7 separate regions of the Homo sapiens genome follow, and regions 1, 2, 3, 4, 5 and 7 are each linked to region 6. The links come from fine-mapping of genetic effects on gene expression. A gene starts in region 6. Each other region holds a variant in brackets. All regions are shown on one strand. Distances are between the middles of the regions. Region 1 overlaps LPAR1 (lysophosphatidic acid receptor 1). Region 2 has its middle 97 kb from the start of MIR7702. Region 3 has its middle 80 kb from the start of MIR7702. Region 4 has its middle 110 kb from the start of MIR7702. Region 5 has its middle 38 kb from the start of LPAR1. Region 6 holds the start of LPAR1 (lysophosphatidic acid receptor 1). Region 7 has its middle 30 kb from the start of LPAR1.

Region 1 (4,069 bases), 160 kb before region 6:
CTCCCTGATGCATCTGTCAAAGCAATCTGTGAGAACCCCAATGCCCACAAAGATGGAGGGAGAGGTGCTGGAATGCAGACGCAAAAGGCAGGGAGGAATGAGGCTGTTTTGGAACAACAGGTCACAGCTGCAGATCGAGATCATATTACCACACCTTCCCTCAAATCTATCCAACCTCATCAGCTGAATAATGCTTACCATCTGGTCTCACAATTACAGTCTTTTTTTCTAGAATGACTTTTTCCTAACTAGTTGAACTTTGCTTACATATGGAATGCAAGAACCAAAGTTAAAGAGGAAAACAGTCCTTGCCAGAGAAGACCTCTAGAGACAGTGTCCAAGATTTTTGATGAAAAACACAGAAAGCGTTTCTAGTCTGGCTGGCAAAGTTGTGTTTTTACAAAAGAACCAGACATCCCATAGATCCAAAACAAGTCAAGGTAAATCAATTCTACAACAGCACTGTGCCCAAGGTGGCCTCACTCTTCTTGTTTTTCAAATGAGGATCCCAGAAACAGTCCCATCTCAGAGACCTGCGGTGGGAATCAAGGGAGAAAATAAATGAGTGCCTAAGTTGCTTTTTCTGTTTTCCCTAAATTGTTTATTCCCTCAGGTCAGGCAGCGTGGTATCCCAGAATCTAATCAAATTTTAGTTCATCTCTGTAGTTACGTTGTGATTTCTGCTATTAAGGTACACACATACTACATAGTTAGCTAGGAAATCCTTCAATGCTATGTATCTTAACAGAGCCTATGTCAGAAAAAGTGGCCACAGATGCAAAGCTTATTCTTCCCCAGTCTTGCAGCTAAGGGTTCATTATAATGGGGGTGTATGTGGATGGCTTTTTGAGATTAACGCTTTTTCTAAAAGAATAACCCAGATTAATTAAAAAATCTTTTTTCCTGACTATTGAAACTATATAATTTACCTGAGGTATCTCCACAGTATTATTGTTCTATATTATTTCCACCCTGATACCAATTTTACTCCATCTAGTTTGGTGTTCAACACTGCCATTCCTTCCTGGTCACAGCACATGTTGCATACATTTAAAGTTTCATGATTTCATTTATTGTATGATGTGCTCTAGTATTTTCATTACTCACTCTTGAGAGCAACATTTATCTTTTAGAGAAGGATAATAACACCATACAGAGCTCTAAAGCAGAGCAGAATACTCATTATGTTCTCTTTTTAACATTCCTGGGTGACAGTTTTAGCTTCATTAGACTCTCCTGATCACCACAATGCTACTTTCCTGTGCCCAAGAGAATGCCAAAGCTGCCTTCCCTCTGGTGTACTCTCCTTAACATTAAGTAGTGTGTATTGCGCACGTACAAGTTCCATACCCTACAACAGACTCTAACTCTCATCCTGCAACTGTACCTTGGAAAGTCCACATTGAAATGACTTGAATGCTAGTGCCATTCTTACAGACCATTCAGGTGCTGAAAAGCCAGGTAAAACCACTTCTCCACTGCTACCATCCTAGCCAAGTGAGCAATACCTTTTATCTGCCAATTGCAACAGGCTCTTAACCAATTCCTCTTCCTCCACACTGCTTCCCTAAAGTCCAGCTTGTACAAAACAAGCATAAATCAATTTGCACTAAGTCACTCTCCTGCTTAAAACCCTCCAAAGTCTTCCTACTTGAAATCCTTACTGCTATCCATAATGCCCTACACATGACTGGCCCTGCTAGTTTCTTGGATCTCATCTCTTTCCACTCGCTCCTCATTTACGAGGTTCCAGTCACACAGACCAAGCCCATTTCTGTCTCAGGATCTTTGCATTTATAGATCCATCTGCTGGGATTACTCTCTCTGCAGCTTTTTATGTCTATTTACTTATTAAATGTCGCTTTCTTAAAAAGGCTATCCTTGGTTATCCTAGCCAGAGCAACAGCCCACCACCATCACCACATTCTCCCATTTTATTATCATCACATGCTGATATACCCAAATGATATATCCTTTATTTAT[A/C]CCCAAAATTATTGTATTTATTGGTTTACATGTTTATTGTTTTATCTTCCCTCAACAAGAATATTAACTTCATGAAGGAAGGAATGCTACCTCTTTCATGTCTGTATCTCTGGAATCTAGAATATTGCCTGGCGACAGCAGACACTCAGTATCTTCCATTGGATGAATTAGCAAGTCATAGCTAAGCGCCTAGTACATATATCCCAAACAAGAAAAATTAATAAGTAGAAATGTCATTAAATTACGGGTGGAAAATAAACATTAACATCTACCGTGTGTAAGGTCTTTAAATGGATGCTATAGGACATTCAAAGGGGCATAAGGAAGACCCTGGAAGACCAAATTCTAGAATGGTGGAACAATTCCTACACACTTTTGAAGGTTCAGAATTTGTATCCTATAATTTTAACCTGTATTACCTGGCCAAATTATTTTTAAGTGTGAGGGTTTTTTAAATGAGTGCACAGATACATAATAAAAGTGCAAGCACATGAATGAGAACAAGCAGCAGCAATTTCCGGACAACTTCTGAGATGACAGGCAGGAGGAAGGAGTAGGGGACGGTGCTTTGGTTATATCTACAATTCTTTTCAGAGACCTGAAGCAAATTATGTAAAATGTTAGCATGTTTGATTTTAATGTTTGGTCATTAGATGATTGCCGTATTACTTTTTGTGCTTTTTATATATTCAACTCACTCATATTCAGATATTTATAAATTTAGAAATTTTAACAACAAGAAACTAGAAGTCTTGATTTTTCTTAAGTAAAAGGTAAGAAGAGGAGGCAGAAGAGTAGAAAGTTTGCTAAAAGTTTTGTCTTGTTTGGGGGCTACTGTAGAAACCGAATTATATCTTGAATTTTATTTTATTTTACTTGAGACTGAGTCTCACTCTGTCATCCAGGCTGGAGTGCAGTGGCATGATCTTGGCTCACTGCAACCTCTGCCTCCCAGATTCAAGCGATTCCCTTGCCTCAGTCTCCTGAATAGCAGGGATTACAGGTGCACGCCACCATGCCTAATTTTTGTATTTTTAGTAGAGTTGGGCTTTCACCATGTTGGCCAGGCTGGTCTTGAATTGCTGACCTCAGCTGTTCTGCCCACCTTCGCCTCCCAAAGTGCTAAGAATATAGCCATGAGCCACCGTGCCCGGCCTATATCTTGAATTTTTTAAAGTACGTTTTTAAAATTTAAAGTTAGCCACTATTAAAAATAGATATTGGATGTACCACTCAAACCACTAAAGAAACAAACAAAAATTTTTTAAAAAGGAAGGAAGAACAAAACAGTTTGAAAAGAAAACTCAATTTATCAAAAGGAAGGAAAAGAAAAGACAGAAGCAAAAGCAAGGAAATGCACACACGTAAATAGAATGTCAAGAATAAGCCCAAACATGTGACTAGATATCATAAATGTGATGCCCTTAATTCTCTTACTAAAAAACAGATTCAACACCATGACTTTTGAACAGATTTTTGTTTTCCCTTGAACTTCTAACTGCTTTTTCTTTTTATTCTCTCTTTTGTTACAGATAAGAAACACACAGTTTATTACAGCAGAAGCATGCCACAGATGTATTTCCAACTTTTTAATTATACAATTTATCCCCAAAGACATTTCCTGCAGCCCGCTGACTTACTAACCCAATCGAACCCATTGATTTCTAGGCCTGCTTCTCAGCTTCCACTGAGGGCTGCTTATTTTACATACCTAGGTGGCACATTGTTTCTTCTAACGTACATCTTTTTTTTGGAATCTCTTTTCTTCTCCCTCCCCCACCCCCATTTTCTAGAGTGTATCCATGAGCATTCTTTCTAGAAAGTTTGCATAAGCTTAAAATCATTTTCTCTCAGAACACTGTCTTCTAGTATTTAGTCTTGCAGGTGAGAAGTCTGATGTATGATTCCCATTCTTTTTGTGTAAAACACCTGCATAGTACGAGTCCTTACTTACTCGCCAAGCTTTGTCTTGCACTGCATGTCTGCTTTCTGGACATATTAGTTTTTCCATTCCTTTCAGTCTATCACAATCCCCCTAACCATGGGCCTTTGTACGTGTTTGCTCTCTCTTCCTGGGATGTTACCT
Region 2 (4,069 bases), 140 kb after region 6:
AGTGAAAATTATGCAAAACCTCTTAACTAAAAATGATAAAACATCACTTAATAAAATTAAATAAGATCTAAATAAATCTTATTTAATTTTATCAAAATTAAATAAGATTTAATTTTATCTTATTTATAATAATAAATTATATTATTGTAATTTATTATCATGCTCATGAACTGGAAGACTCAATATTGTTAATTTGCCAGTCCTCTCCATATTGCTCTAAAAATTCGACATATTCCCAGTCTAAATATCAGCAGGTTTTTATTAGGAAAGATATACAAGATGATTATAAGGTTGATATGGAGATACAAATGACCTGATATAACCAAGAAATTCAAGAACAGCAATGCTGGAGAACTTACAGTACCAGGTTTCAGTAGTTACTACAAAATTACAAAAAACAAGGCAATTGCTATATTGTTGTTAAAGCTAGACAAATAGATCAATGGAACAGACTAGAGAAATAGACCCACACAAATATGAGCCTTTGATTTCTGACAAAAGCACTGTAAACTATAAAACATGACTGAATAAAATTAAGAGCTAAACAAATGGAGAGATTATCATGTTTATAAACTGGAACTTAATTTTTAATATATGGTGCTGGAACAACCAGACATCTTTCCCCCACCAAAGTTAATCTTTATCCATTTTTTACATCATACACAAAAATTAATTCAAGGAAGTATCAGAGATTTAAATGTGAAGACTAAAATTGTAAAGCGTCGGTAGGAAAACATGAGAATATCTTTGCAACCCTGGGGATGACGGATGATTTATTGGGCAATATACAAAAAGGACTAACTTTAAAAGAAAATAGACTGAATCAAAAATGATACTGCTCATCAGAAAGCCACTTCTCATCAATAAAGCCAACAGGCAAGTCACACACTGGGGTAAAATATTTACAATACATATGCCTAACAAAAAAAGATCTGTGCCCAACATACATATTTTTAAATACCTACGAATCAATAAGGAGAAGACAAGACAACTAAAACAAGCAAAAGACTCCATCTGTCACTTCACAAGGCAAAATGTTTGAATAGAAAGTAAACAAATAAAAAGATATTCAATGTCATTATTCACCAGGAAAATGAAAATTAAAATGATGAGATACAACTTCACACAACCAAAAAGACTAAAGTTAAAAGACCAGCAATGGAAGTGCTGATGAGGATATAGAGCAACTGGGTTTCATATCCAATGATGGGAGAGCGGAAAGAAAAATGGTAAAATCACTTTGGAAAGATGTTTGCCAGTTTCTGATCAAGTAAACATTCATCTATCCTACGACCCAGAAATTTCACTCCTACGTATATACCTAAGAGACATGAAAGTATATAGCCACAAAAAGACGTACTCAAGAATGTTTATGGCAGCTTTATTTCCAAAAGTCCAAAATTGGAAATAACACAATGTACATCAAGAGAAAAATGAATCAGCAAGTTATGGAGTCATACCATGCACTGCTATATAGCGATAAGAAAGAGCAAATGATTGATACACACAGCTACATGGGTGATTGTCAAAAAGAGACATGAAAGAGTATTATTATAGGCTTCCATTTTTATGCAATTCAATACCAGGCAAAACTAATTTATGGTGATAAAAGTCATAATGATCTCTGTGTTGGGGCTGTTGATTAGGAGGGAACACAAGGGAACTTTCTAGGAGTGTGAAAATGTTTTATATCTTGTGTGGTAATCACAAGGGATATATACATTCATAAAAATTCACTGAGCTGTAAAATCAAGATTTGTACATTTTACTCTATCAATTACCTCAATGTAAACAATGCTAAAAATCTTTATTGTACGTATTATTCTATATTCTTGACTTCCTGTACTTCCAAAAAAATTTTGATAGGCCCAAAATATTCATGTTGGGGTTTTGCTTGAAGTTGCACTAAATATATAAATTAACCCGAGGATTGATAACATATTGGATCATCCTATTAGAAACATATACTATGTCTCCATTTATTCATTTTTATTTGAGTCTGTCTCTCATTGTTTTTTTTTCCTTAGCTAATCTAGAATTGGTATTGCAGACATTTTAATT[A/G]TATATTTTTCCATTATACTTACCAATGTTGTTTTCATATAGAGGAAAATAATATTGTTATTTCTATTATTTTCCTTCTAGGATTTTGTGTTGTCATTTTTGCTTACATTCAAAATATCACTGAGAAATGGTAATACTATTACCTTGTTCTTGGCTAGAACTGTCAAAAAAACTACCTTTAAAAAGTAACGAAAACCAATGTTCCTGTCCTCTTTATGCGCTTGATAAACATGCCTTTAGCATTTACCATTACATATGATGTTAGTGTTATGAGACAGCACTGTTTGCTACCATATTAGTTTTCCTTGTTTTGTCATGTTTGGATATACAAATTTGCATCTCTAAGTATTAAAAAATACTTATAGAGCTTATACCTGTAATACCAGCATTTTGGGAGGCCAAGGTAGGTGGATCACTTGAGGCCAGGAGTTCGAGACTAGCCTGACCAACATGGCAAAACACCGTCTCTCCTAAATACTAAATACAAAAATTGGCTGGGCGTGGTGGCACTTGCCTGTAGTCCCAGCTACAGGCTGAGGCATGAGAATTGCTTGAGCCTGGGAGGCAGAGGTTGCAGTGAGCAGAGATTGTGCCACTGCACACCAGCCTGGGCAACAGCAACACTCTGTCTCAGAAAAAAAAAAAAGTATAGAAAATGCATCTCCAGAATTTATAAAAATGTTCAAATATTTTTTTCCTTTGATCTAGTGATGCCATGATACATTGTGCTAATAGTGTTTCTACTATTATTTCATATTCTTAAATATCATTTTTCTTTTAACATAGTTCTACATTTGATTTGTAAAATATTGAAGTAGTTTTTTGCCTTTATATAGTAAACACATAGTTTTATTCTTGTCTTTCATAAACATTTTAGGTAGTTTTTTTGCCAAGTCATTGGAACCATGGAATTTTTTTCCTATAGTAAGCATTTTAGCAAGTTTTGCCTCAGTGATCATAAATGTAGAGTTTTAATTTTGTCTGTTTTGTCAGATTTGGCTATCAGTGTTATGCTAGCATTGTATAATAAATTAGGAAACTTTCTTTCCTCTTGTAGACTCTGGAATATTTCATGTGCCATGGCAAATGCCAGTTATCAGAAGGTTTGAAGAAAACTCATAAAATTGACTCAGGTATCCATCTTGGAGAAAATTATTTTGCAATGTTTTGTTTTCACCCTATATATTTAACTTTATTGGCAGTTTCTCTGTTTTGTCTTAATTTCTGTTTCTATCTTTAATTTTTTTCTCTTGCTTTCCTTAGTTTAATTTGAATATTTTCTAACCCCTTGATGAGCGTTAGCTTATTTTCATTCTTCCTTATTTAATAAAAAATGCACCAACAGAATACATTCTGGATATTTAGTTTCCAGCATATAAGATCTGAGATCCAATATCCTCATCATTTTTCAATAATCTCAAATTTGAGTTTTTTCCTACTTAACTCAAGAAAAGAGGCATATTTGTTAGAAATCCTGTTTGGCTGCTATAAATGAGAGATCCTAAACAATAGCGGCTAAAATGAGGTATATGTATGTCCATGCAGACAGTCTAGGGCTGAGGGTGCTTGGTCTTTTTCTTCTTTGCTATACTCCTAGTTTCCACAATATGCAGTTTCCCACCACGATTTCAGATCACTCTTGTAGGTCCTAGCATCATAACCACATTCTATCCCACAGAAGAAGCATAAGGAGGAAGAAAAGGATTTGCAAAGTGTAAGTTGCAAACATCACTGCGACCCACCATGTTGACCAGAATTTGATTGCATGTCCACATCTAGAATCCAGAATCAAGGGATCCTGGGAAATGTACTCTTTCACTGGTTGACCATGGGCCCAATTAAAAATTCTATTATTATATAAAATGACAGCACAGATAAGCAGAGAACTATCAGTATCTGCACAGAGAGTTTTAAAAATATTTTCCATTAGCTGTTTTATTTTAAATTTTTGTTTTGTTTGTTTTTTCTTAGAGACAGGGATTTGCTCTGTTGCCTAGACTGGAGCATA
Region 3 (4,069 bases), 150 kb after region 6:
AGTTTGGAGGTTCCTTAAAAAACTAAAAATAGAGCTACTGTATGATCCAGCAATCTCACTGCTAGTATATGGTCAAAAGAAAAGAAATCAGTATATCAAAGAGATATCTGCACTCCCATGTTTATTGCAGCACTATTTGCAGTAGCCAAGATTTGGAAGCAACCTAGACATCCATCAACAGATGAATGGATAAAGAAAATGTGGTACCTGTACACAATGGAGTACTATTCAACCACAAAAAGCATGAGATTTTGTCATTTACAATAATATGGATGTAACTGTAAGTCATTTTGTTAGGTGAAATAAGCCAGGCACAGAAAGACAAACTTCACATGTTCTCACTTATTTGTGGGAGCTAAAAATTAAAACAAATTAACTCATGGAGATAGAAAGTAGAATGATGGTTACCAGAGGCTGGGAAGGGTAGTGGGAAGTTGGGGGAAAGTGGGGATGGTTAGTGGGTACAAAAAAATAGAATCAATAAGACCTAGTATTTAATAGCACAACAGGGTGACTATAGTCAATAGTTGTACATTTTAAAATAACTGAAAGAGTATAATTGGACTGTAACACAAAGAATAAATGCTTGAAGCAATGGATACCCTATTTACCCTGATGTGATTATTACACATTGTACGCCTGTGTCAAAATATCCCTTATACCCCATATATATACCTACTATGTGCCCATAAAAATTAAATAATGTAATTAAAATTTTTTAAAAACATAGTTTAACATTTTTAAATTAGTATCTGCTTAGCAACTTCTACAACAACCTTTCCTGAAAACATACTAACATACTGATGAAGATTTGGAAAACTATGAAACCATTAATAAGATTAATAGATACTATAATGGAAATATATGGAAGGCAATTAATTTCCATTGACTAAAATGCCAATGGAGTTTGATTGAGAAAAAATAATTCAGGCATTCTCAAGCTTCATCATATGAAACAAAGGGCAATGCTGAGTTGAAAGACAACAGGAGATACACTTCATCCTTCACTCTCTCACTCTGGCTCCATAGGAGAGACAGATACCAAAGGCAGAAATAGGAGGAGCCTTGATAAGAACATACAATGCAGGCTGTGATGTTGCACATGCTCTTCAGAGAACAGAGCTAAGAGAAAAAGCATACCTCATTCCAGCAGAATGTGCTCATTAAATGTGTAGAGTACAGTGAAATATTGGCTAAGTGGCACCCAGTGAGACAATGCAAAGACTCAAGGATAATCCACTCATCTTGACTGATGATAAACACCAGGTCTAAATAGCTCTTTCCATTTTTGTAAAAGAAGAAAAAATATTTTTGCTTCAACTTTTTAATTTTGTTTAAATTTAATTTTTTAATTTAAAAGTTAAAAATGTTTTTAAACAGAAGAAAAACAATATTAAGTGGGTTCTATGGAAACATAATGCATCACAAGGAAAAGATAATACACCCTGATGACTAGAAGCGACTTACTTATTCTTACAAATATTTGGTGGAGGCCAGGCACAATGGCTCACGTCTGTAATCCCAACACTTTGGGAGGCTAAAGTGGAAGGATTGCTTGAGGCCAGGAGTTTGAGACCAGCCTGAGCAATGTAGCAAGACCCAGTTTCTACAAAAAGAAAAAAAAAATTAGCCAAACGTGGTGGCACATGCCTGTACTCCTAGTTACTCAGGAGGCTGAGGCAGGAGGATGACTTGAGCCCAGAAGTTTGAGGTTACAGTGAGCTATGATTACACCACTGCATTCCAGCCTGGGCCACAGAGTGAGAACTTGTTTCAAAAAAAAAATGGTGGGAAGCAAAGGAAATTTTTAGAAAACTTGGCATCCTTAATAGGATGCCAGAAGACAGAGCAAATACAAAGAGAGAGAATAGAAACAACTTAGTTCAACAAAATTTGATGCAAAGACAATACTTAGAGATGAATAGGAGGCCAGGTGAGGTATAGAAGAACAAAAAGGAAACTAGCATTGAAAGATAATTAAAATCTACAATGGAGTCAGTTAAGAAAGGAAAGTATATGGCAAAGAAACAAATGTAGAAAATAACCTGAAGAGCCATCCTAAAATGTAGCTGTAAAGACACAGACTGGAAAACTATATGATTTTATAAATATAGAGAAATTAGATAAAAATCCAGTCAAAACATTAGGGAAAGGCCAACTAAATCAGAATAATTTAGAAGTTACAACTTTTCTGAGCTAAAATATATAAAGATTAGATTATGCATATCAAAGGTGATTAGCATATTCTAGGTAAAATTATCAAAAAGAGAGCCATGCCAAAATTTCTGAATTACAAAGATCAAGAAAATATCCTATAAGTCTTCA[G/A]AGTTAGAGGGATGTTACCTACTGTACTAGGGTTTTCAAGAGAAACAGAACCAATAGGAGGGATACATATGATATAGATACATATATAATTAATTATGGGAATCAATTCATGTAATTATGGAAGCCAAAAGTCCTACAATCTGCTGCCTGCAAGCTGGAGAACCAGGGAAGCCAGTGGTGTAATTCATTCTGAATCCAAAGGCCTGAGAACTAGGAGAACCAATGGAAAAGAGTCTGAAGGCCTGAGGGGGTTGGGAGGGAAGAGGAAAAAAAAGGAAGGGTAGAGTAAGGAAGGGGAGTGGATGCTGGTGGTATAAGTCTCAGAGTCTGAAGAACCAAGCAGCAGCTCTGATGTCCCAGCCTTTTTATCTTATTCCAGACCTCAACAGATTGGATGATACCCCTCAAGGCTGAGAAGGGTAGATCTTTACTTAGTCTATCAATTCAATTCAGTCTCTTCCAGAAGCATCCTCACAGATACCCAGAAAAAAATATTTTCCCAGCTATCTGGGTATCCCTTAGCCCAGTAAAGTTGACATATAAAATTAACTACCACACCAACAAAGAAATACCCTGTACCCCCATAAAAAGACATTGTGTGACCTCAAAACCCTCTCCAATAAAAAATGCAAAAAACTAATAGAGAAAAGTCTATAGGATTTCCTAGGGGAAAAGCTGTGACATGAGATTATCTCTAAATGAATAGTTATTCCTGTGTGAAAGAAAAAAATAATCATTCCAGACATACAAAAATTCAGAAAATACAGAATCCAAGTGTCTTTTTTATCTTAGAGTAATTTTTTCCTTTTTAATTATAAAATGTATAACAAATTATTAAAAGAATATTCAAATAATAGAAAAAAGTTACAATCACCCATATATCTCTGGGTTATCTATCCAAAGATAACTTTCCAGTTTCATTTAACAATCTGCCACAAAGTTGTTGTCTTCTATGCCATTGAAAATTCTCCTACAGTGTAATTGGTAAGGTAGGAATTAGATACTGGTTTATTTTAATATGGAAAATAATAAACTGTGAATGTTCCACCATTTATTTAACCATTCTCTGTGACCAATTGTCAGTTGGGCTCACCCTTAGATCAGCACTGGGGAAGTCCAGTGCTTCCTCCCAAGATCTTGCATATTCCTAAGGGATTTAAATTCTTATGGTTATTTCTGACTTTGGGCTCTTGCTTTCCACTGAGTTTATTTTGAATACAATTGTTTTGGCCTGCTGTATCTGATCCTACCACTCTCCGCTTAAAAGCTTTTAATAAAATAATTTTCCATTGCCCTTGTAATTAAGTATAAACTGCTCAGCTCGACTTACAAGTCTTGCCTATGTGTCTAGCCTCATCTCCAGGCACTGCCCCCATCTCACCTGCTCTCCTCCTTTCCCCTGTACTCCAATAATATGAACAACTTTTCAAATGAGTCAAACTCTATCTTAACCTCCAGACTTTTGGCAAGTTGTTAAAGTACATATATACTAATATATTTCTAGGCACTTTGCTAAAAACCTAACAGGTCTGGTCCAGAACAAACAGATCAGTGAAACAGAATATGCAGCCAGAAAACAGATTCTAGTACATATGGGAATGTAATGTGTTATACAGAGGTGTCACATGACACTGAAAATGTGGTAAACATTCTAACAAATGTTGAGATCACTAGCTTCCACTGGAGCAAAAAAATTTTAAGACTGATAAAGTTTGATCCTTACCTAATAATAGTATGCATGAAA
Region 4 (4,069 bases), 120 kb after region 6:
TTCCTTTTTCACTGAGAAAACAGAAGCAATCAGAATAGGCATTGACATACACCAGCTACCACATCTACTGATATATTGGTATGTGTGCCTTGTTCTTAGCAGTCTGGGGCTATGAATGACCTGTTAGCCTCTGAGCTGAGGCCACACCCTTCACTTGTGCAGTCAATCTCATCCATCTTGCCAACTCAACAACAACACTGCTTCAACAATTGTTCCCTCTCTCTCCTGCATCTTCAATTCCCTGTCTCTGCTCAGTCATTCATACCAGCATACAAAAATGCTAGAAGGTCAAACAAAACCCTCATTTACCCCAGATACCATAACACATCTCTGCCTTTCTTTACTACAAAACTTCTATAAAAGCTTGCCTATCCATGGTGGCGCCAATTCTGCTCTTCCCACCCTCTCTTGGATGCATTCCTACCAGGCTTTCCTCCCAACCACTCTGCTGAAGCAGCTTTCATAAACATCTTCAGTTCATCTCAACCACTTACACTCTATCCCACACACCTCCTGCACTACCACCATTTGACACCTGTACATTTACTTGCTCGTTTGTTGTCAACTAACTAGGCTGTACACTCCATGCACTCTATCCCGAGAGCCCAGAATGCTCTTCGGTACACAACAGGTACCCAATAAATATTTTTTAAATGGGTTTTAGCTTGTGATCATTTACTGTATCAATTACCTCTGTGTAAACAATGCTAAAAATCTTTATCGTACATATTATTCTATATTCTTGACTTCCTGTACTTCCAAAAAAAAATTTTGATAGGCCCAAAATATTCATGTTGGGGTTTTGCTTGAAGTTACATTAAATATATAAATTAACCCGATGAGGACTGATAACATATTGGATCATCCTATCAGAAACAATGTATATATGATTTAACATTTTTTAAAGGCTGCAATTGCTGCCATTAATTTCCATAGGTAAAGATCATCTGGGAAATATTTAAACATTTTTTTTGAAACAAAGAGCAACAAAAGGTAACTCAAGTTTTCAATATCTGTTCACTTAATTCTGATCATGCAACTATCAAGTTGGGGAAAAGAAATACAAACTCAGATACTGGGCTTTAAAATAACGTGCCCCAAAGTCCATGCTATGACCTGGGCCTCTGATGGGTGTGATTGAAAGAGATAGTAGTATCATCAGTAAAGTAAGGCCTACAACAGATTAAAAAAAAAAGATTTGGGATGGAGAGTATGAAATTGTTTAATATTTTGCAAAATAAGCATAACATTAGAAATTGCCTGCTTACTCAGAGGTGAGTAATCTGGCAGTCTCGGATATCTACTACACAATCCAGAATGAGAAATGGAACAACCACAGTCTCCAAATGACCTAAACAGATGTCACAAAGCCCCAGCTTACCGAGGCAGAGTTTAGCAGCTTCTCTCAGAGCCACATGTTTAGGGTGAGGTATTCCAGCAACAGAGAGTAGAAGCAACCAACTATGAGGATGGTACTAGAGAGAGCACACCCCCACACATATACGCACACAATTTCCAAAGGCCTTTGCAAGAACTCAAATGACCTGGTCTAGTCAGCCTTAGCACAGCTCTTCACACCTCAGTAGCTTTTTACACATCAGCAGTGACTCTACAATGCAACAGAATACAG[A/G]GTAGCACCAGTCAATTTCATTCAGAACAAAGATCTGAGGTTGTGAAGATAAGAAGAAGTTATATTCAGCATCTTCTTTTTAAGAAGGCAGACAGATAACTCATATAGTCTAGAAAGATATCCATAAAATCTGGCCACAAGTATTTAAAACTGGCATTTGAGAAGGTAAAATTTCTGGGTAAATATCTGTTAAATAAAATATCTCAATCCCCAATCATGCTGGATAAATGGGACACTAGTGTGCTTCTCTAAAAGATAAAAAAGAATCAATAATGGACTTAATTTTTAAATGCTTGACTCATGCCAAATGTATTTGAGAGGTAATACATACTACAACTCCAGCATCATGAAAGTAACATCTGATGTCAGCAATCTAATGCAAGCTTGTATTCACTGGTCCGGAAGATGGGAGATCGCTTACTTTATTAGTTCTGTGATCTTTTAAAGAAAGAAAACAGTTTTGTGAGTAACTAAATTTGCTTTTTCCGTGTTAGAGACTGGTTTTTCTAAGATTAGCAGTGTAATATTCTCAAAACTGGAAATAAACTAGCAGTACCCAATGAAATTACAATAATCAGGCTATTAATTCTGCAGACCAGAAAGAGAAAGAAATGAGAGCTTAATATTAAAAATTTCAAATTTTTTCCACCCTTATTAGCACTTCTCTTCTCAGATTTCCTTGCTGGCATTACCAATAGTATAATATATTGGATCTTGTTTTTGTCACACACGTGAGGATTTATTTAACTTGAAAGTCCTTCCCAGCTCACGTGGATTGGAACCATAACTAAACACCTTGTCACGTGTTTCTCATTGTGGACAGGCATACACAGCTTTGCAAAGAATAATTATTATTCCAGTGTAGAGATTTTTCCCAGACTTTCAAAAGATAGACTATAGATCTTGAGACACTAAAAAACTTGTTTATGATTTTTAATCAGCAAAAGAATGTATTCACACTTAAGACATGGAAAACAGCTCCTTCTCTGGAAAACAAGAAAAGCATTTGAAAACCAATTTCATTTTTTCTTTGAGCTATATTAAGGTCTATGGTTTTAAAAAGTATGATACAAAAAAAATCCTTTTTTTCTGTACTCAGTAGTCTAAGTATCATAGACATTTTTGCTTTTCGGAGGAATCAAAAGTGTTTCTCTGATGTCATCAGGACCATCACTCTGGCTAAATCTTTTAAAAGTTCCTATGACATCCAAACATATGAAACTCAAGGCAATATATCAAAAGAGGTAAGACTGTAGGCTTAATTCTTCTGATCTATGAGTTATATATGAGCAAAAAGATGAGTTTGAATTCTCCCTTGTACCTACTATCCTAGTGACCTTGAGCTGTTAACTGCTATGCACCTGTCTGCTCATCTGTAAAATGAGGTAAAAGTGTAATCTCTTTCATAGGATTACTGAAAGAATTAAATGAGATAATGCACGTAAACCACCTAGCATAGAGTAAATGTTCAAACATTGTTATCAATGATTAGGAGTGTGACTGTGATTGAGATCCCAGGAAGTAACATAGCTCACTATGAATGCATCTGATTTCTCTTGCTAGCACCACTTACCCGCCTAGCACATAGTCACACAGTATTTCCTTCTAAAATATTTTATAACATCCTGACAAAAGGATGAATTTTAACCTAGATCGATGTTCTTTAATGACCAGAAATGTAATGGTTCCTCTCTATTCTCTTTGATCTAACCTCATTTCTTTCCAATATTCAGAATCAACAAGAGGAGGAAAGAATGAGAACCCTTGGTCATGAACAGGAGAATGTTTTTGACGATTTGGAAACTGGGGAGTATGAGACTTCCTCTTGGGAGAGTTGAAATAGGGGTAACATAAAGTGCCATATGAAGAACATTCAGCCTAAGTGAGAAGAAACAAATCCCGATTTATGTCAATCATTGGCATATAATATTAAGGCCAGTCTAGCAGCTACTTTTTACCCTTACAACATGTCATTGTGCCTTGAGCTTTTTCCATCTCTTTAAGGCAGACTCCTTTCATGTGCTAGCTGTACTTAAAAAGCAGCAGTGAACAGAAAGCAAAATTAACCCAGTATATTACAAACCAAGAAATGATGACAAGAAGGTAACAGCTATACTGCTGGAAGACTGGAAAGGCATCTTCAGGTAAGTTCAGTGGATCCTGAACTACTCTGTAGCCTTCATCCAAATCCTGTCCAAAAAGGAAGCTTCAGTACCTTCTGTTTTCATATCAGGCTTGATAAGTGTGTTTTGTCAATTATAATCAAAGGCTGGCCTTGACATTAGAAAATGTTATTTTTCAAACCAAAAAGAACCTGCAAAGCCCGTTCTTTGTTGTACTTCCTCATCCTCCATAATTATGCCCTTTCACCTCCGTTTTTTTTCTTTTTTCTTCTTCTCCTTTTACTGCAGGATTTATAAAATCTCTGAAACTTGTTGT
Region 5 (4,069 bases), 38 kb after region 6:
AAAAATCACATCTCCTGATATGATCAACTTAAAACTGTCTAGATTATTTTCTTGTTTGATGGCAGAGAGTCTCTTCAATAGAAACTTCACTTCTATAACAAAAGAATCTGTATTATGTCATTCTTGAATTGCCATAAAGAAATACCTGAGACTGGGTAATTTATAAGAAGTTTAATTGACTCATGGTTCTGCGGGCTGTGTAGGAAGCATAGTGCCAATTTTAGCTTTTGGGGAGGCCTCAGGAAACTTCTAATCATAGCAGAAGGTGAAGAGGGAACAGGCATCTCACATGGCGGCAGCAGAAGCAAAAGAGAGAGTGAGAGGAAGTTGCCACACACTTTACAACAACTAGATCCCACAAGAACTCACTATTGCAAGAGCAGCACCAAGAGGATGGTGCTAAATCATTTATGAGAAATCCACCCTCATGCTCCAATCACCTCCCACCCAGCCCCTATCTCCAACACTGGGGATTGCATTTCAACGTGAGATTCAGAGGAAACACATATTTAAAGCCTATCAGCTTCAGGATAAAATAGTCAGACTTAAAGATACTTCCAAAAGTCTAGGTTATTCTGACTGAATTAGCACCATGAGTTTCCAAGTATGATCTCTGAGAGACTTTGATCGTATCATTGCTTTTGGTCTTTCCTAGTCCTATACCCCACTCCCAGTGAGTGGCCTGTGGATAACTATGAAAGCACACATACACACACTTCCTAAGAATAATAAATAAATTTAAGAAACAGTACAGTCTAAATCATATTTAGAAAAGCAACATTTTCTTAAAGGTTACAAAATCTGCAAAGATCCAACTCTATCCTCAATGATGTCAAAAGGAATAGCAGAGTACTGGCCAGGCATGGTGTCTCACGCCTGTAATCCAAGCACTTTGGGAGGCCGAGGCAGGTGGATCACTTGAGGCCAGGAGTTCCAGACCATTCTGGCCAACATGACAAAACCCTGTCTCTACTAAAAATAACAAAAATTACCTGGGCATGGTTGCACACACCTGTAATCCCAGCTACTTGGGAGACTGAGGCACGAGAATCACTTGAACCCAGGAGGTGGAGGTTGCAATGAGCCAAGATAGAAACACTGCACTCCAGCCTGGGCAACAGAACGAGACTCTGTCTTAAAAAAAAAAAAAAAAAAAAAGGAATAGCAGAGTATTTTAGTTCCTTGAAACTACATGGTCTCTCTCCTCTCCAATCCAGAATAGGGTATTTGTGGTGGTCTTCCCATAACAAAAAAATGTTTGCCTAATTCCCACCATACACACACACACAAAACCAAAGAACTGCTGGAAGTTTTGAACTGACAATGTTTTAGTCAGGAATCAAGCCCTGGAACTATGGGATTCCCCTTCCCTCAGCAGCCTTTCAGCAAGAAATAACTTTTAGCCGTACTCTTGGCCTGGAAAGGAGAGCGAAAGCCTGATATGAAGACAGCAGATGATTTTTTTTCTCCTTACGTAGCAAATCTCACAGGTTGTCACTTCTTTCCCCCCTGTTAAGTGTATTCTTATACCAAGACATTTATTTCCCCACAGGTCTATATCCCTATTTCCTCCCACGGCCATAGAATGTGTAAGAAAAGTAACTTTCTCAAATTTGACCTGTGCTGCTATGATATTCTTGTTTTTGTACTTCCACCATTTTACCTAGCAGTTATTAGAATTTGTTAGTGGGGAAGACAGTAAAAGTATGCTTCTGGTAGGATGGAAAGGAAATCCTACAACTCTCTCTGGACTGTCCATGAACTGAAAATTCTCCAAAAGATGTCTACTTTTGGTTATTTTTACTTATTTTTAAGGATTCCATCTCTGTTGCCCTAAGGGAATAACATTTATATTGACCTTTTGAAAGTTGTGATTTAGCTCCCACCCTAAGCTGAAGAAAGGAAAAGAAAGAAAAACAAAGGAAACCTGGAACCTGTTAGTATTTTTCTTTCTTCATCAAATTTTTCTCTTACTCACTTCCTCTTCTTGCTTACTGGGGATTATAATCCAAGCCCTGCTCACGGGGACTGGTCCTTGACTACAAGAGACAGCCCTGCACTATGCACATTCATCGTTACAACACCAAAGAATCATTAGATGTGGCAGGGCATAGGGGCTCACGACAGCGGCTGTCATTCCAGCACTTTGGGAACCCGAGGTGGGTGGGTCAGGAGTTTGAGACCAGCCTTGTCAACATGGCAAAACCCCGTCTCTACTACATAAAGTACAAAAATTAGCCAGG[C/T]GTGGTGGTGGTGGGAAACTGTAATCCCAGCTACTCAGGAGGCTGAGGCAGGAGAATTGCTTGAACCCTGGAGCTGGAGGTTGCAGTGAGCCGAGATCACACCACTGCACTCCAGCCTGGGCAACAAGAGTGAGACTGTCTCAAAAAAAAAAAAAGAATCATTAGATTTTTAGAGTGAGTTCCTCTTCTTAGTGTAAAGGCATCTCTCTATTTCCTGAAAACAAAAAATGCTAAATCATACCTGAGAGTGAACCCAGTCCTACATACTTCCCCAGGCCGAGTGCAGTGGTGGCTCATTCTTGTAATCCCAGCACTGTCGGGGCTGGGGCAGGAGGATCACTTGAGTACAAGAATTTGAGAGCAGCCTGGGCAACATAGTGAGACCCATCTCAAACAAGCAAACAAACAAACAAATAATCCTCAACTTGCTTCTACAAAGCTCTGTTACTGCAGAGAGTAAGAATCTAACTTTCTCATCCCCAATCTTATTCTCTCAGAGGCAGATCATGGGGAAATATTAAAGACAGTCCTCCTTTGCTCTAGGGTAGAAAATCAGGACACATCAAAATCTCACTACTAGGAAACTTTGGTGGGGCAGCGAATTCTCTGGATACTTGCAGTTTCAGATACCAGATTTAGTAGGGAGTACTCTTGTGTTGTGGGAAGAGAGTAAATTTTATATTAAAAACTATTCTAATGCACATAGTCCTCATTTGAACACTCAAATAAGTTTAGATTATTTCTAAATTGGCATTTACAGTGCATGTAATTCCTAGCTTATCAATCATTGTCCTCACTATGACAAATTTACTTTCCACTTACTGCTGTTTCTCTTAGTGACCGGTTTTTAGCAATAATGTATCTACTTAATTCTTGTTTATATAAAATTGTTGTCATCTCTAATAGAATTATTTCACAAGCTAGGAAGGGGATGGGAGAGGGTGAGATAAAGACAGATTGATTATTGGGTACAAAAATACAGTTAGATAGAAGAAATAAGCCTACTGTTTGATGAAGCAGTAGAGTGACTATAGTAAAAAATAATTAATTGTGTATTTCAAAATAGCCAGTAGAAAATAATTAAAATGTTCCCAACATTAGGAAAAGAGAAATGTTTTAGGTGAAGGATATCACAATTACCCTGATTTGATTGTTTTATATTATATGAACATATCAAAATATTACATACACCCTGAAAATATGTACATTGTGTATCAATAAAATAAAATAAAATAAAATAAAATGAATTCTTTTACAGATTTTTCAGAAGGCAAGTAACTATCTTAAAGTGAATGAAATAACATGGCTAATTCTAACATTGACTAGTTATGTGACCTTGAAAAGTTATTATTCAAAATGCACTTCTATTCATTCAAAATGGATGGGATAAGAGTACCTACCCCACAGTGTTGCTGTGAGGATTATGTGAGGTGACATATATGTGACACTAACTAGCATATAACAGCTGCCCAATAAATATAGTTTCCTACTCAGCATTTTGGGAGGCCAAGGCAGGTGAATCACCTGAGTTCAGGAGTTTGAGACCAGCCTGGCCAACATGGTGAAAGCCTGTCTCTACTAAAAATACAAAAATTAGCCAAGCGTGGTGGTGGGCACCTGTAATCCCAGCTACTCGGTAGGCTGAGGTGGGAGAATTGCTTGAACCTGGGAGGTGGAGGTTACAGTGAGCTGAGATTACATCACTGCACTCCAGCCTGGGCAACAAAACGAGACACCATCTCAAAAAAATAATAATAATAAAATAAAATAAATAAAGTTTCTTTTCAAGATCTTTGGGTGGTGAAACCTTTTGTGACTCCTCTGTT
Region 6 (4,069 bases):
TCCGGATGGGGAGACGGAGACCAGGATCTGAGCTGACCCGACTGGCTGAGGTCGCGCCGCTAGGGGACGTGGTGTACCTTGCGGGCTCGGATGATGACAACCCAGCCTTCCCTCCTCGCTCCTCGCCCGTGCCTTCCTGCCTCAAGCTACCTCCTTCTCTTGCCACTTGGTGTTTTTATCCTCAAATCAGACAAGTATCAAGAAAAAAATGCAACCTTAATATACTTACAATGCTGATTATTATTCATAATTTTGCATTTGGGGCAATTATACTCGCTCCTACTGGGATATGGAAATCAAGGGCAGAAAGAACTAGGTGACATTCTACCTCCCTGTGTATTTTAATGATGTTTAGTTTGGTTCAAATAACCATACCTCTAAAATACACCCTTTTTCCTTGGGACCCACTCTTCTATCCGGCAAGGGAATAACTTCTTAAAAAACTTCGCATTTTCCAAGTGTACAGTCTCCCCTTAACCAGAACTGCAGACTCTGAATCACAGACCTCTGGCTTACCAATTATGCTTAGCTGAGCAAACACACTTATGCAAATACGTGAAAAACAAACTGTTAGAGCCTGAAGGAATAGAGGATTTCGCTGTGATCATCAATATGTGATCATCACATTTTCAATATTTATGTTTACCAATATCTATCTAACCCCATAGGAAACGACGCGTCCATAGTGAAACAAGCCAGCACCCACATTTATGAAAAAATCCACGGATTTCAACAAAAATGAAGAGAGGAGAGCAGAAGCGGAGAGCCACAACCTCAGGCCCCAGACAGCAGGCAGCAGCAAGTCCTGAATGCCTTCACTCTTAACATTGCAAAGACCAAATGGCAGCAAAGAAAAACAAGAATAAACTTTAAATCCATTCACCACAAAGGAGTCCTACGCAAGTCAAAGGAGCCGTCGATTTCAAAACCATCAACTTTCAAAGCCAGGTCCCTCCCTTGCCTTACAACCTCCTGTTACTTGTTAAGCACGTTTGTTAGGCGGCTGGACAGAAACTTAGTTAAAAGTCCTCAGCCCGGTGGTGGGGGACAACCGAGTCGTCAGTGGGAAGCGAGAGGTGCGGAGCCCCAGGGGCGCAGGGACCCCTCGGAGGTGCAAGTCCAGCGGGACGAGGTTTTGGGAGAATTTCGAGGGCCCCTCGCAAGCCCTCCCGCGCACCCACCCCGACCCAGGTAACCGGAGGCCACCTACGTGTCACTGGGCGGGCCCCGGGGCGCACTGACCTGGCGCGGGACAGGAGGGCCGGCGGCCCGGGCGGCTGCGGCAACTTCCCTCCAGGGGCTCGGTCCGCCGCTGGGTGCGGGAGGCCAGGGGAGCCTCGCCTCCTGCAGGCCGGCTCGCAAGAACGCACGGCCACCCACCCGCGCCGCGGCCCACAGCGCGCACCCACACTCTCACTGGCACTCGCACGCGCGCCCCCAACCACAAAGCCCGTCCGCGGCGGGACAGTGTGAGCCCAGCGCGCCGTGTGGCGGGCCGAGCAGTCGCCGCGGCCTCTGGCTTCGCGCCCAGGGGGCGCCGTCCCCACACGCCGCGCCGGCCCCCTTACCTGCGCTCGCTGCCGCCGCGCGTCCCTCTCCTGCCGCCCCCGGGCTGGCTTCAGGCCGCGCGCCCAGTCCCGGCGGCCCCCGCCCCACCGCCAGCCGAGCCCGGCCCTCCGCCCGCCCCTCGGCAGTCGCCCAGAGCGGGGCCGCCCCCTGCGCCCACCCCGCCGGGGTCCCGTGCTCGGCCGGGCGGCGGGGAGGGCTCCGCGGCTCCGGGCCCTGGCCGCCCCAGATCCGGCCCGCGCTCCGCAGCGGGGCTGGAGACGGAGTCGCCACTCAGGGAGCGTCAGCCGCCAGTCGGCCCCTACTGCCCGGCTTTGGCGCGCTGGCAGGAGGAGGGGGCGCAGAGGGAGGGCCAGAGGAGCAGCGCCGACGCCAGCCTCCTCTCTTCCTCCGCCTTCCTTCTTTTCTGCTTGTTCCACGTAGCACAAGTCAGCAACACCCGAACCCCCAGAGTCCGCCCTCCCCGCTCCCAAGCTGGACCCCTTACCTGGTGTGGCGCCCCCAGCGCCCCTGACCTCTGCGCCCCCTCCTCCATTCATTGGCTCGACAGCCCACGGTGGTGGCAGGGCCGGGGCTGGGGGGTGGCCTTAGCCTCCCATTCATTATCTCAGCAGCCTCCCCCGCCCCGCCCCCGAGTCGACACACCCGCAGCGGGAGACCCGTGGCCGCCAGCTCGGGTCCCACCCCCGCCCCTCCTGCGCTTACCCCAGCGCCGGACAGCTGGCAGGACTCCGGTGGACGCCCCGGCACGGGGCATTTTCACGTTGTCGCTCTCCTCTTCCCACTCGAAAAGCTCTGGAAAACATCGCGGGGCCCGCAAAACCCCGGAAATGTGGCCTCTCTTTCGTGGCTCACTTTCTAAACTTTCCAGAAGGCGCAAAGTTTCTCCCAGCGCCGCCCTGCACTGGAGGCTGCGAAGAACGCAGAAGCGGCTTTGCTGCTAGGAAGGTGCATACGTTTCTAGTTCTGATTTTTCACTTCACTGGATCTGTAAACGAAAGCAAGTGTGTCTGCTCCCCTAGTTCTCCATATCCACGATTATAAATTTCTCTTCCGCTTTCCCAGTGTAGCTTTGCAAGTGTAAACTATCAATTTTAGTGAGAGTAATTAAGGGCGGGGACTGCACACCTGGAGGTGTGGGTGGGAGCGGCGCGGGACTAAGGCCTAGGGAACATTCTCAGGAGAGTGGCAGCCACAGGGATTCGCCCAGGTCTTATAACACACCCACTCGATGGGGTCTCCCTAGCCACGCCACCTCACAACACCCATCTCCCACTTCTGGCTTCCCAGGATTTCCGGAGTGATCACAATTATCGGCCTCTCGCTCCACAGCTAAGGCCACCGCATATCAAAAATAGCAGCGTGTGAGTAAAAGTTTCATGAGCCCTCGCCTTGAAATGGCACAGAGGACACAGCACACCAGCAGTAAGGCATGGGGACTCGGCAGGACTGATCTGATTGAGAGAAACGCAGGACAGCGAGGCGGGGCTATGTTGGTGGTGGCCACCAGGTAACCGTGGGCTTTGCAGAAGAGAAAGGTCACTGCAAACCGTAGCTGGACGGAAACTTTTCAAGCCTCAAGTGAGTTATGCTGTGACGGGACCATGACCATCTCCCACCGGTGACTGCTTAGAACCTTGACCAAGCTCGTGTGGTTTTCACAGGATGCTCAGGGCTGAGTCCTGGCTGTAAATAATTTACTATCTAAAGCTGTTTCCTTTTAAAAACAATGGTTCTAATCTTTTTTTTAAAAAAAATCATTCAAATCTTTTTTAAAAATCCACTTTAAATAACTTTGCTTTCTATACCTTTCCTACGAATATATGATTTATTTTATAACCTACTATGTGAAAAAATTGAAATTTTAGTACATGCACAGTGCTAATATGTTCATGCACAATGCTACTTATGTTTGTGTACGGCATGCAGAAATGTGTATAGATATGTATACCCATGAATACAAACCACTCCCTTATCTCACAAATAATCATAGGGGTTGATACCAAACTATAAGAAATATTATATTGGGATGAATAGGCAAATGTTCACTATAAAATCTCAGTATCATAAAAAGTATATATTGGTAAGAAAAAAATATACTCGAAAGAGGTTTCCATATATTTTTAACCATAGCTCTACTCAAGTCAAAAAATCACTTATTAGCTAATTTTCCCGTCTCTTTCTTCCTATACACTGTACTTACTATCAGATTTCTTAACACCAATACTTCTATATCTAATATAAAGACATTTTAAAATTAATTATTTCCATGTTTAGCCTTTCCCCATAAATCAAAGGTAAAGTAAAAGGAGTTTCTTACCTACCACTCAACTTGAATATTTTTAATATGTTGATTTTGTCTCTTACCTTCTTAAGGAATACAGTTGCTTCTGTTTTGACTATCTTAACTACTCTGTGGCCCCTTCTAACATCAAATTGGGAGGCCTGTCCGTACAAGACATGTGTATTCAACAGTAAGTTATTTGCTATAAAACACTTCATT
Region 7 (4,069 bases), 30 kb after region 6:
CAGGAAACCCGAAAGTAAGCACAGCTGGGATCCATAAAGTCCCCTCCCCTCTTTGATTCAGAGAGAAACATTAAAACAGCTGACCTCTTGCTCCAGCATTTCTTTTCTATCATCTGGAATGTATGATAAATAGATATTTAAAAGCTGACATTGTCCTGGCACCTTTATCCTTCACCATAATTTTACTAGCTCATTATCTTTCAAGAAAGCTTCCATCCTATAGACCTTATGAAAAAAGGCTTAAATATTCCATGTGATACTAGAGTTCTGTGTTAGAAGAGTATGGAAAAAAATCTTTTTAAAAACTGTCAGCTGCAGAAGTGTAATACAGGCAAAGACTGTGGTTGTTTTATTAAAAATAGTTAAAACTCAACTAATTAGAAGGTTGTGGTCCTTTATTGCAATCTGTTACTGAAAAGTTACATGTTGATGAAATTATGGTTAGTAAAAGTATACTTAAATAGTATTGCCAGAGTCTGTAATTTAAAGAAATTGTGTAGTAATTTTTTGGTCAAGTAATTAATTCTTTTTGACATGAAAATATCCATCCTATTGTGTCTTATTTTGTAAATTAAGGTTGACAAAAATTTATTTTTCTTAAAATAGAGGCATGTCTTTCACTGAGTGTTTTGTTTTAAAGGTTGAGATAAACACAAATGCTGCAAGTATGTTTACGTTGCATCAGAAACATGTTAATTATATGTAAGTTAACTCATGAGTATCACAGCTTATAAAAAACATTATGGGGAAAGTGGATTGAAAAATGTTAGTTTGCTTTAGAGTTGTCTCAGGTCATGAGGCTTCGTGATCCAGAAACTAGATACTTCTTTCATGTGAAAAAACTGTTTAATCATCCTCAGTTGGTTTTTAAAATAACGAATTCCATTTTTATTTGCAAAAGTTCACAAAGAAACCCATTTGATTTACTGAATTTAAATAATTTATAGACATAGCTTTCCTAGAGATAGGAAGGAAAAAAATGTAACAACAGCACCCACTGAGAATTATCTTCCAAATACCGCCTCTAAGTCTGGACTTCAGATCAAGATCTGGCAAACACACAGTACTGAAATTGTCAGCTCTCTGAAATAATCACAGCTCACTGTCAGTCAGAGGTTTTGCAATTGAATTAATGCACATTTCTCTCTTACGCAGCAATTCCCCTTTAATTCTTAGTCTTCTCACTCGCTTTTAAAAGAATTTTATTTCTGCCTATACCTCTCTCAGCTGTACAAATCCACAACAGGAAATATAGTTAAGGCACTGAGACTAGTAGGGAAAAAAAAGTGTGTATATGAGAAAAAGAAGAGACAGGGAAAGAAAGCATCAACTTCTGAATAGCTTCAATATGCCCATCCCAAGTCTGATAAACATCCCTTTCATATTAAATATTGGCTGGAAGTACTTTTACATAAAGGAAAAGAGAAGACCTTTTTATGGTTTTGAAAGGTGATCACAAGATGAAAGCAGCCAGCATCGAAGTTCCTTGACTGGAATTCCACCAACACAGATGGAAAACCCGTTGTTGTGGGACTTTTTGTGTTTTGTTTTTTGTTTTTTGTTTTTGAGATGAAGTCTCACTCTGTCACCCAGGCTGGAGTGCAGTGGCGCAATCTCGGCTCACTGCAACCTCCGCCTTCTGGGTCAGAGCAATTC[C/T]CCTGCCTCAGCCTCCTGAGTAGCTGGGATTACAGGCACATGCCACCACGCCCAGCTAATTTTTGTACTTTTAGTAGAGACCGGGTTTCACCATGTTGGTCGGGCTGGTCCCAAACTCCTGACCTCATGATCCGCCTGCCTCCGCCTCCCAAAGTGCTGGGATTACAGGCATGACCCACCGTGCCCGGCCAGAAAACCCATTTTTTAAAAACTCAAATATATTCACAAATAAAAATAAGCCACTGGGTTTTAAAAGCCCTGGCCTGTGTTATGTGGAACATCAGGAACCAATTAAATTGCTCTCCCGTTCTTGTTTATCCTAAATAATACGGTCTTTTCCCTCCTCTGATTATACCAGCTTGTGTCCCTGTGGCAGGGATCTATTCTCTCACTCTCTACTAAAACCCTTTCTCCACAGCACATAAGAGTTGGAAAAGATCGAAAGCCTGCGTTTTATTATGCTAAGGAAAACTAGCTAAATATCCGTCTTATATCTTGTAATATTTTCTTCTGCCCCCAAAAGACAATTGGCAGTTGGTTAATGAGTTGGTGCGTTTGTATGTGAATCACAATATCCAACCGTTGACAATGATTCTGTTTTTCATTTGCTTAAACTTTTCACCTCCCTCCTGAGCTTATAATGGAACATATTCTTCATGTTCTGCTTTTAGTTTTCCTTTTTTAGGCTTGTGCGCATGATTCAGTTCTGAAGGGTAGAGAGCTAGACTTCGTGCCTTATTGTGAAATATGGACTATCAAGTGACATCAATCCCTCCATTTACTGTTTGAGAGCACACCACTCAGCATGTCTGTTTCTTGTCTGACCACTGGGACCACAGCCTCAGTAAAGGTACTATGTCTCATGTCTGCCATCAACAAATTTACATATCTGCCCCTAGGGTATATTCCTAGGAGCGGGGTGGATATTACCCATTGGAAAGAGCTACCAGTTAAGTTCATAAAACCACAAGTCACATGGCTCTTGACTTGTACAATACACAGGCATGGTCATCCTTGTATATTTTCCTATAAAAAACAAATGGAGAAAGAGAAGGAGTTTGAGCCAGTGCCCTTTTGCATCTGTCCAGCGTGAATAACACCACACGAGTCTCAGAGTGCTTAGATAAGCTTGACCTCTCCCAAGAAAAGAGACTTTTTGAAGCTTCTATTCTGTGTGAATCTGAATCAGTGAGCTCAATGTTTAATGTCTTGTTAATGTCCAATTATGCCAGAAAATGACAGATGAAATATTATCTCAAAGTTGGAAAAAATAGCTTTCTTATTATAGCCACAAGATTCCAAAAGCTTAGCTCCACCATCCCAGTGGCCCATCAAGAAACACTTTTTCATTAATAAATACTTACACTGTTCTACTCAGATCATCTAAGTGCCTGTCCTTTCCTATTATACAATATCTTACGGTTTTTTTCTATCTAATTCGACCACCGGATTAAATTATGTACCTTCAGGGACAGTTGATTGGTCATCTGCCTTGCTGTCTCCATGATAGGGCTACTTTTTACACATTTCTAGGAAACAGAAAGGAATAGTTGCCTTTTTAGAAACTGCCTAGTGATGTGGCATCACCAGATCTATTCAGGTTACCTAGTAGACATCATTCAAACTTGAGTGGTGACGAAGTGTAATTGAGGTGGGGGGAGGCAAGTATCAAACCAGGGAAATAAATAAAACCCCTAAATTTGGCCAAATCTCTTCATCGAAGATGACACCTAACCTGTAAGCCTCAGTGTTCTAAACTATTAAAAGGATAGCAGAAAATTAACATCCACTGAGTAGCTACAATGTTCCATACACTTCAGAGAATTGCTTCAATTTTATTCACACAAAATTCTTGCAAAAGACTTTCTGGGCCGGGTGTGGTGGCTCACGCCTGTAATCACAACACTTTGGGAGGCCGAGGCAGGTGGATCACGAGGTCAGGAGATCAAGACCATCCTGGCTAACACGGTGAAACCCCATATCTACTGAAAATACAAAAAAATTAGCTGGGCGTGGTGGCGGGCGCCTGTAGTCCCAGCTACTCGGGAAGCTAAGGCGGGAGAATGACATGAACCTGGGAGGCAGAGCTTGCAGTGAGCCAAGATCACGCCACTGCACTCCAGCCTGGGCAACAGAGCGAGACTCTATCTCAAAAAAAGAAAAGAAGAAGACTTTCTCTCTCCATATATGCATGAGGAAACTGGAGTAGGGGGACAAAGAGAGGAAGAGGAAGAGAGGGAGAAGGAGATAAGAAAGAAGAGAGGAAAAGAAACTCCAAGAAAGTGAGCCCAGTGTACTCCATTAAGTTCTAAGAAAAGAAAAAGGGAAGGGAGAAAGGAAGAAAGGAACCAAATGACTAAATAGGTTAATTAATTTCTCCAGGGCCACTAAAGGTGGCAGGGCCAAGATTTGC

The links. PIP is the estimated chance that this variant, and not a neighbour inherited with it, causes the effect. A credible set is the group of variants that fine-mapping cannot tell apart.
Region 1: its variant is the best candidate, but not a certain one, in a credible set for the expression of LPAR1 in whole blood (INTERVAL, PIP 0.75).
Region 2: its variant is the best candidate, but not a certain one, in a credible set for the expression of LPAR1 in blood mononuclear cells (TOPMed, PIP 0.57).
Region 3: its variant is the best candidate, but not a certain one, in a credible set for the expression of LPAR1 in whole blood (TOPMed, PIP 0.79).
Region 4: its variant is the best candidate, but not a certain one, in a credible set for the expression of LPAR1 in whole blood (INTERVAL, PIP 0.59).
Region 5: its variant is the best candidate, but not a certain one, in a credible set for the expression of LPAR1 in monocytes after R848 (Quach 2016, PIP 0.61).
Region 7: its variant is the best candidate, but not a certain one, in a credible set for the expression of LPAR1 in monocytes after LPS (Fairfax 2014, PIP 0.83).

What each region holds. Positions count from the first base shown.
Region 1 is chr9:110,880,197-110,884,265 of GRCh38, forward strand. The region is part of intron 5 of LPAR1 (lysophosphatidic acid receptor 1); the gene reads right to left. Among named protein-coding and RNA genes, the nearest start is that of LPAR1, 160 kb to the right of the region's middle. The variant A/C (reference allele first, on the strand shown) is at 1,984.
Region 2 is chr9:111,172,578-111,176,646 of GRCh38, forward strand. No RefSeq gene overlaps it. Among named protein-coding and RNA genes, the nearest start is that of MIR7702, 97 kb to the right of the region's middle. The variant A/G (reference allele first, on the strand shown) is at 2,062.
Region 3 is chr9:111,189,389-111,193,457 of GRCh38, forward strand. No RefSeq gene overlaps it. Among named protein-coding and RNA genes, the nearest start is that of MIR7702, 80 kb to the right of the region's middle. The variant G/A (reference allele first, on the strand shown) is at 2,326.
Region 4 is chr9:111,159,813-111,163,881 of GRCh38, forward strand. No RefSeq gene overlaps it. Among named protein-coding and RNA genes, the nearest start is that of MIR7702, 110 kb to the right of the region's middle. RefSeq lists an enhancer at 1,258-4,069. The variant A/G (reference allele first, on the strand shown) is at 1,631.
Region 5 is chr9:111,074,223-111,078,291 of GRCh38, forward strand. No RefSeq gene overlaps it. Among named protein-coding and RNA genes, the nearest start is that of LPAR1, 38 kb to the left of the region's middle. The variant C/T (reference allele first, on the strand shown) is at 2,244.
Region 6 is chr9:111,036,599-111,040,667 of GRCh38, forward strand. It overlaps LPAR1 (lysophosphatidic acid receptor 1), which reads right to left and starts at 1,872. Exons shown (of 6, transcript NM_001351411.2): 1 at 1,569-1,872. LOC124902248 (a long non-coding RNA gene) reads left to right here and starts at 330. Exons shown (of 2, transcript XR_007061732.1): 1 at 330-1,191; 2 at 2,857-4,069. RefSeq lists a silencer at 1,302-1,641.
Region 7 is chr9:111,066,611-111,070,679 of GRCh38, forward strand. No RefSeq gene overlaps it. Among named protein-coding and RNA genes, the nearest start is that of LPAR1, 30 kb to the left of the region's middle. The variant C/T (reference allele first, on the strand shown) is at 1,657.